Homo sapiens: one gene and its partner. The protein of the gene in region 1 interacts with the protein of each later gene in a pairwise test. Each region holds a gene or a part of one and is shown on either strand. Other genes may lie near its edges.

Region 1 (4,085 bases):
AGAACTTCCCAGAGGATACAACATAAATGACAGAAACACAAGGGGATATTTTAAGTGGCTGATGATTTTAAATGATATATCATCTATATTAAGGGAAGGTTGTTTGTTTTTTCTTTCCAACAAATGGAAAGTTACTGTTTTAAAAGTGTTTAATGTTCAAATTCTATTTTTAGGGCCAAATCTTTTCTCTCTGAGTGGATTGACTGTAAATTCGGCTCCTGAAATCAATCTGAGACTGCAATTGGCCCCTCAAGTAAATAAACTTGTCAAATCATATCCATTTCTGTGTTGGGGATGAATGATTAATTTAATGGGCTTTTTGAAAATACCTAAATTATGTTGTAATTTTTGTAACTGTTTCAGTTAAAATAACAAAGAGAATGCATCTTTTATGAACAAGATAAACTTTATAAAATGGAAAATTCTAGCAACATAATTTTTACTGGTACTTTGAAGAAAGAAAAAAAAAGCCAATATATTATGGCAAACAAAATCCAGGCGACACTAGCTTTATTAGAATCTGGCTGATTTTATTATTAAAGGTGGTCTGAATTTGAAGAGACTGGCAAATTTAAGATTAAGATCTAAGCCAGACTTATTTCCTAAACTGTATTGGCAAAGTTGTGCCAATGTATTTTTCTCTCTGTTGTCTTCTTCTTTTAATTGGCTACCTTATTTGTAAAGAGGATTGAAGATCTTTAGAAAAGTTTCTGTCAGTCAAAAGACAAAAGTTACTTTTCCCTGCAAATATCAAAAGCACTTTACAAAACTCATTCCTTGCCCTCAAACAAAAGTTATTGCCAAGCGTCCTTTAAAATACAGTGCCTGGTTGCTTTCCCTTGCTCAGACAGACATATATTTTCCAAACTACCCAGATTCTCTGGTTCTTGACACTTTTACTAAGTCTCTATATTACTTCCCACCTAGGACAACTATCTGGCAAAAGGTCAAGGTAAATAAATACCTGATGGTAAAGACTGTGTTAACCACAAAGAACTTTCCAAAAGATAAAGAATGAAAACGGGCTTCCTTGGGAAGGAGAAGGCAATCTATTAATTGTTGAACAGGTTTCTAATTTAGAAGAGACTTTTTTTTTTTCCTTTAGTTAAATACATGAATACTTTCGCAGAGCAGGAGAAAGAGACCAGACTGGCTATTTGCTGGCAAGGGATTCCCAAGGATGAAAATTATGAAGGCCAGAATTTCCCTCCCACTCTCTCCTTCAACATCCACTTCCCAGGAAGGAGAAGGCGGAGAGGGAAGAAAGACCCTTGACGACCCTTCGCCTTCTGCATGAAGTGGGGAGGAGGGCGAACTGGGGGTCACCGAGGGCTCCTCCACGTCTTTCCCAGCCCAGGACCCCCGGATCCTTCAGCCCCAGCCCGGGCCCGCCCCGCTCACCGGTACCAGGCGAGGCCCTTGTCGTAGCTGCGGTCGAAGAAGTGGGGCTCGGCGCCCACGGCGCGCACGTCGGGGTGCACGCGCAGGAACTCCAGCAGCGCCCGCGTGCCGCCCTTCTTCACTCCGATGATGATGGCCTGCGGCAGCTGCTTGCTGCCTTCGTCCAGGAGCAGCGCCAGGGTCCCCGGCGGGGCCTCGGCCACGGTGCTTCCGGCCCCGGAGCCGCCCGGACCCCCTGACAGGCCAGGGGACTCTTCTTCCCAGGCCGCCTCCTCGCCGTCGTCGCGGGGCGCGGGCGGCCGGCGCCTCCGCCACTGCGGCAGTTGCAGGAGGCGCTTTCTCTGTGCCGCCGCCGGCCACACCGCCAGCTCCCTCGGGCCTCCGGCCAGGACGCCGCCACCAGGGGCCCCCGCCTCCTCGCCGCCGCCGGACAGCCCCACGACGGGGCCGGACAGGGTCTGGCAGCGCTCGGCCAGGCAGTAGAAGACGTAAAGGGACGTGAGCAGGGAGCAGAGCATCAGCAAGAACTTCCGGAAGATGCTGCGGGACAGCGGCTCGGCCGAGGTGGAGAGGGCACTGGCCGGGCCCGGAGGGGCCATCCTAGCCGGAGGCGACGTCGGGCAACGCGCCGGCCATGCTAGGCCTGGACCCCGACAGGTGCCAGAGCATCCCCCCGGCGGGCCAGCGCGCTGGACGGAGGCCACATCGCCGTGCGCCCCTGTGGCCGTGCGAACTGTCCCGGGAGGCAGCGGCCGGGGCTCCGCGGGGAAACGGAATCCCGGGGGCCCCGCGCAGGATCCCTGCCTCCAGTCGAGGGAGCGGGAAGGGGAACGCGGGTCCGTGCTTAAGAAACCATCGTCTTAGACTCGCCCAAGTCCTGAGCTTGGGGCAGCCTTGGCCCCTCGGTTCCCCGCAAGAGTCGCCGGAATCGGGGTCTTGGCAGCGGTGTCGAAGGCGTGCGTCTCAGCCCCGGCCCCGAGAGACTTCTCGGCGCGGATCTCCGCTCAGCGATCCTGCATCACTGGCTCGGTCCCCGTGAGGGCACGCGCGGCTGCCGGGCCTCTGCGCTCCGTGCGCTCCAGACAGTGGCGAGCGACAGTGACTTCCAGCCCCGGCTTTCTCTGGTCCCCTTGCCCGCCTGGGCGCGTTCTCTCCGCCCGAGTTCAGGTTCTCTCAGCCAAGGAGCGAGGTCCCCCCGAGTCCCTCTGCCCGAGCGGGAGACAGGAGGCCCGTGCAGAGCCGTCCACCCCTCTCCGTAGCGCCGGGTTGCTCCAAACTGCTCTTGGACCCCACCTGTGAGCCGCGTGGCTGGGCTGGGCTGGGCTGCGCGGGACCTGTCAGCGGCCCCCGCCACTCTGCTCGCAGGCGCTCACCGGCTGCCTCCTGGGCCGCCGCTGGCCGCCGCCACACGTGGGACGCCGAGGGCAGCAAACTTGCTGGTGACGTCAAAGGCCCGGGCCGGACCAGCCCCCGGACGAGCGCAGCGGGGCGCGGACCAGCGGCCAGGCGGGGCCAGACGGGCGGGGTGGGATGGAGAAAAGGTGGCGCGGGCTCCGCAGCAGCCGCCCAATGGCACTGGAGAGGGCGGGGGCGGCAGGGGCGACGCCCCTTCCCCAGTGTCCCCCATTCCTCCCCGCGGCTTCGCCCCCTTCCAGTGGATCCGGTGTCTGCGGCGGCTCCGGGGTTGCCTGAGTGACAGCTAAGGCCGGCCGGATCTCTGGGGGCCTGACTTCCACCCAAGACGCCACTAGCTTGGTGAGGGGCCCCAGAGCTCTCCACCGCAGCTCAGCCCTCCGCAGCCCTGACCCTCCCTCTCCAGGTTCCCCGCGCTCTGCTCCCCTCTTGGCACTGTTGCCCTATCCTTCCCCATCCCACTGCTTTCCATCGCCTGGAACCTACTCCTCGTCCCCTTGGAAGTTTTGTTTGCAGCAGTTCCCAGTACTGCGCTGCACGCCACGCCCCCGTTTGTCTGGAGCAAACCGAATTCCTCTGCAGCAGCTTGGACTTCTACCTACTCAACTGTCTGCTGCGGGTCTTGGAGCAAAGCTCTTTCTCGTATCAGTCTGTTTTTTGTTTGTTTGTTTTCTTTTCTTTTCTTATTTTGATTGTTTTCCCTTGGATTTGTATAAGATGATACAGTCCTCCAGGGCCTAGAAAGGAACAACCTCTTACGAAAAAAAAAAAAACCAATGCATAAATCAAAGGCAAAATTAAAATTTAAAAAAAATTCAACTCCGATTCCAAGTCCCTATGCCCAATTTTTAATGTAGTGTGTATTTCCTTAATGTTGTTTGTACTTTTGTGTGTGTGTGTGTGTGTGTGTGTGTGTGCGCGCGCGCGCATGCACGCTCGCAAAGAGGTTAAATGTCCTTTCATAAACTGCGGTTTCCTCTTTCCCTTGCCTCCCCTGACCCTATATCCTCTTCGTGCGCTCCCCGGAGAGCAGGTCAGGAAGGGATACAAACCGCCTTGCTGTCTAATGGAGGGAGGTGGCCCGTGGAAGCTGCATGAGGTGGTTTTTTGTTCTAATCCTATTTGTTCCTTATTTTTTGGCTTCCTTGCCTCCACAGGTTGCCTCACCATGTGGGCGGTAGCTTGGGAGCTTCTTACCAGCCCCTGCAAGCTGTGGAGGCAGCTTTCTGGGACCTCTGCGGGTGCTAACAAGGGCCCACCGCAGGCTCAAG
Region 2 (3,500 bases), on another chromosome or scaffold:
GGACAAAGGTAGAAAACAGTAACAGATGAGGTACAGTCTCAGCCATATGTAAGATACAGCGTTGGCCACACTCTTTACCAAGTGAGATTTAAAGAGTCTCCAAAAACTCAAAAGACATGAAAAAAATCGTGCCACTTTAATGGAGAAATCATATGTGGCTATCAATTTGAATGTATGCAAATTAAGACGGGGGAATGGGGCAAAACGCCATAGCAGCTTTGTCACCATACAGACTAATTTTTTTTCTTCAATAACAGCATTCTCCTCCTAAGCCTAATGGAACTCCCTGGCCTGAATTTGCTTTCACCTCCTGTGTCCATCCCACATTTCACTGCCCAGTCAATTCTTCTTCCTGTTGGAATTCCAATCCACCCTCTCTACTTTTGATATGCACACAATGTGGTCTCATCTGATCCCACTGATCTGCTACCCACTCCTCTCTCCTAAGCCCTCCCCTGAAGTTGCCTTAGACGTCTCCTGTCACAGAACACACTGCTTTGAAATCTTGCTTGCCCAATATCCTTCTCAATAGAGAATACCCTTCAATATGCACTTTCAAATCCCATCCACTCTTCATGTTCAGTTTCAGTTTTACTTCCTGCATGAACTGTCAATGAGTACTTCAATCTATTACTTTTTCTCCTATTTGCTCCTAAAGCATGTGGAGAACTTACAGCATCTTACATTTGATGATATAGCATGTTGTTATTTTTTCCTAACGATCTCATAAATATTACATCAGATTATAAGACCCCTGAGGACAAAGAACTTGTCTTAAATGTTCAAAACTTAAGACAGCCCATATATTAATAAATACACAGTAGGTGTTAAATAAATACCTGTTCATGCATAGAATCTTAGAGGATTCAAGCAGGAAGAAACTTTAGCGATGATGTGATTTAACCCTCTCATTTCATGAATACTGCTTTGAACACTTCCAAACCAGAATTAAATAACATTGCCAATTACCATTTTAGTTTTGTTCTTAAATTAAAATAAAAATCTGAGCCAGTAATCCTATCTATCCTGAGAAAATCACAGGTACACTAAAAATATTATTTACAGTGGTATAAAACTAGAATCAACCTAAGAGTGAAACAGCTGTATTAAGTAAATTATGGCACATAGATACAAATGAATACAGCCAATTACAAAACAAAAAATAAAGCTTTAAGAGAATATGTGTAATGTCAAGAAAAAATTTCATAATGTATTAAGTAGAACCAATTGGTTAGAAAATCACAAACACAAAAAAAATTTAAAAAGAGTAGAAAAATATGTATTAAAATATTAACACGATTATCTTTCTGTATGGAATATTGGTATTGCTTTCTTGGTTTTTTAAAAATTACTGTCATGAACACATTACTTTTAATACTATTAAAAGTTATTTTTAAAATATGATAAAAATGGTTTTAGTGTTTTCCAATTAACTATTATGTTAACATTGGGATACTATAAAACTAACATGAGACAATGAATTTTCAGGTGTCTGAAAACAAAAAACTACCAAAGGCACAATACTGTATTATCTTTTGGTTTATCAGTAGGAAACGGATTTAATATTGATTTTTCTGCATACGTCTTCTTCCTCAACCAGGAAGCAAATGGAGACTTGGGAGTGCACTGATTGCGGCCGCTACCATCTTTAGAGTTTCATTCACAAACAGCGATCTATTTTTACCTCCATATTCTAAACAAGGACAAAGTCCTCACAAGAAGCCTGCAGTCCTTTAATTTAGCCTTTTGATCTACAAAGGACAAAGCACAACTGTTCTCTTTTCTGTCACTAAACTAGGTGTCACACTAATATTTACTCATGTCCACTATACAGAGAATACCATTCATGCAGGTTTTTGGGAAACAAGGCTAAGACTTAACAATTTTCCAAGGATCCAAAGCAAGTGAAATAAGTTCATAAATACTCTGCTCAATATGAGATCATGTATTCAATTAGAAATTTCAAAAGGAAAAGAAAGTAGGTAACTTGGAAAAAGGTTCAAAGAACAAAAAGAATCATATATGCCTTTACGGGTTAAGTTGTAGGAAAAGTTAATACTTGCACAATCAGTAGCAGCACTTGTAAAACCTTTACCATGAAAAGTGGTTCTTCAGATATGCGATGTCGTAAATTTATATAATTTGCATAACTGGCGAAAGTAAAGATCCCTTAATGACAGACATGAATGTACCAAGTTCTAGTGGGAAATCAAACACTAGCTTAATAGTCTGAAAACGGGTCACTTTTTATTTATTTACTTTATTTTTTTGAGATGGAGTTTCGCTCTTGTTACCCAGGCTGTAGTGCAATGGCGTGATCTTGGCTCACTCCAACCTCCGTCTCCCGGGTTCAAGCGATTCTCCTGCCTCAGCCTCCTGAGTAGCTGGGATTACAGGTGTGCGCCAACATTCCTGGATAATTTTTGTATTTTTAGTAGAGATGGGGTTTTGCCATGTTGGCCAGGCTGGTCTCAAACTCCTGACCTCAGGTGATCTGCCTGCCTCGGCCTCCCAAAGTGCTGGGATTACAAGTGTGAACCACCACACCTGGCCAAAACGTGTCACTTTAAAATGACTACAATAAAACATGCTAAGAACTATCAGCATATAAACCAGATTGGTATGGCTATACTTTGTACTGGTTATTTCTAAAGACATATAGGTTCCTGCAGCTCTAGTGGAAGCTGTTCAAGAGTTAACTCTTCTCCCCAAAACAACCTCAGGATACTAAAGTATATAGAGAACCTTCTAATTATCTCTAGATTTTCTCTAGTCCTTAGAGACAGAAGCAACTCTGCCAGTGGGTAAGCTCTGAAATCCTGTAGGGTAGAGTTCCAAACTTCTGACAGGTACTCCCTTCTACAGTTTCTTTGCTTGCACTTTCTAGGAAATAATGCCTGTTGAAAATATATACGCAAAAATAAGAAATGCTTTAATAAAAAATAGATTTTATATTAGCAACCAAAAATTCTAAAAGTAAGAGAGGTAGACAGGATTGTGGGTTTTTTTTCCCCCATCACTGTCACCTGCTTCAAGTCCTGTCCTGCAAGTCCTGCTTAACTGTTGTCCTCCGGTTTGAAATTACTTAGTGAAATCAAGCACACCACACAGGCATTACCTAACACTACTACGTAACACTCAACACCGAAAATAGAAAAGATACAATGTAAGCTCTGACTGGTAACATTATAAAGCAAATTCCAGAAATAATCTGCCAAATATCACCTTCATTTTCTGTCTGCAATCAATTGCTTACCTAGTTTTATTAAGAATTCTCGTTCCAAGTCTTGTACCTGCCTGATGGATTCTTCCAGAGAATTACAGAGTTTGATCTTTGGTCTTAGCAGTTCTAGTGTATCACTGATCATGTAATCTATATCAATAGGAAATGGATGGTCTTTTGTCCAAACCTCCAAACTTTTCTTCCACCAAACATAACGCTGATAACAAATGAAAAATAAATTTAGCTATAAGAAATTAGTAACAAAATATTTTAAAAT

What was found.
Region 2: the proteins of HS3ST3A1 (region 1) and UPF2 interact in a two-hybrid assay, tested with the Homo sapiens proteins (one large-scale study listed by BioGRID).

What each region holds. Positions count from the first base shown.
Region 1 is NC_000017.11:13,599,130-13,603,214, forward strand, and holds the start of HS3ST3A1 (heparan sulfate glucosamine 3-O-sulfotransferase 3A1), read right to left. Parts: upstream 2,801-4,085; 5' UTR 2,001-2,800; coding exon 1,402-2,000; intron 1-1,401. UniProt on the Homo sapiens protein: Sulfotransferase that utilizes 3'-phospho-5'-adenylyl sulfate (PAPS) to catalyze the transfer of a sulfo group to an N-unsubstituted glucosamine linked to a 2-O-sulfo iduronic acid unit on heparan sulfate.
Region 2 is NC_000010.11:11,948,810-11,952,309, forward strand, and holds part of UPF2 (regulator of nonsense transcripts 2), read right to left. Parts: intron 3,441-3,500; coding exon 3,257-3,440; intron 1-3,256. UniProt on the Homo sapiens protein: Involved in nonsense-mediated decay (NMD) of mRNAs containing premature stop codons by associating with the nuclear exon junction complex (EJC).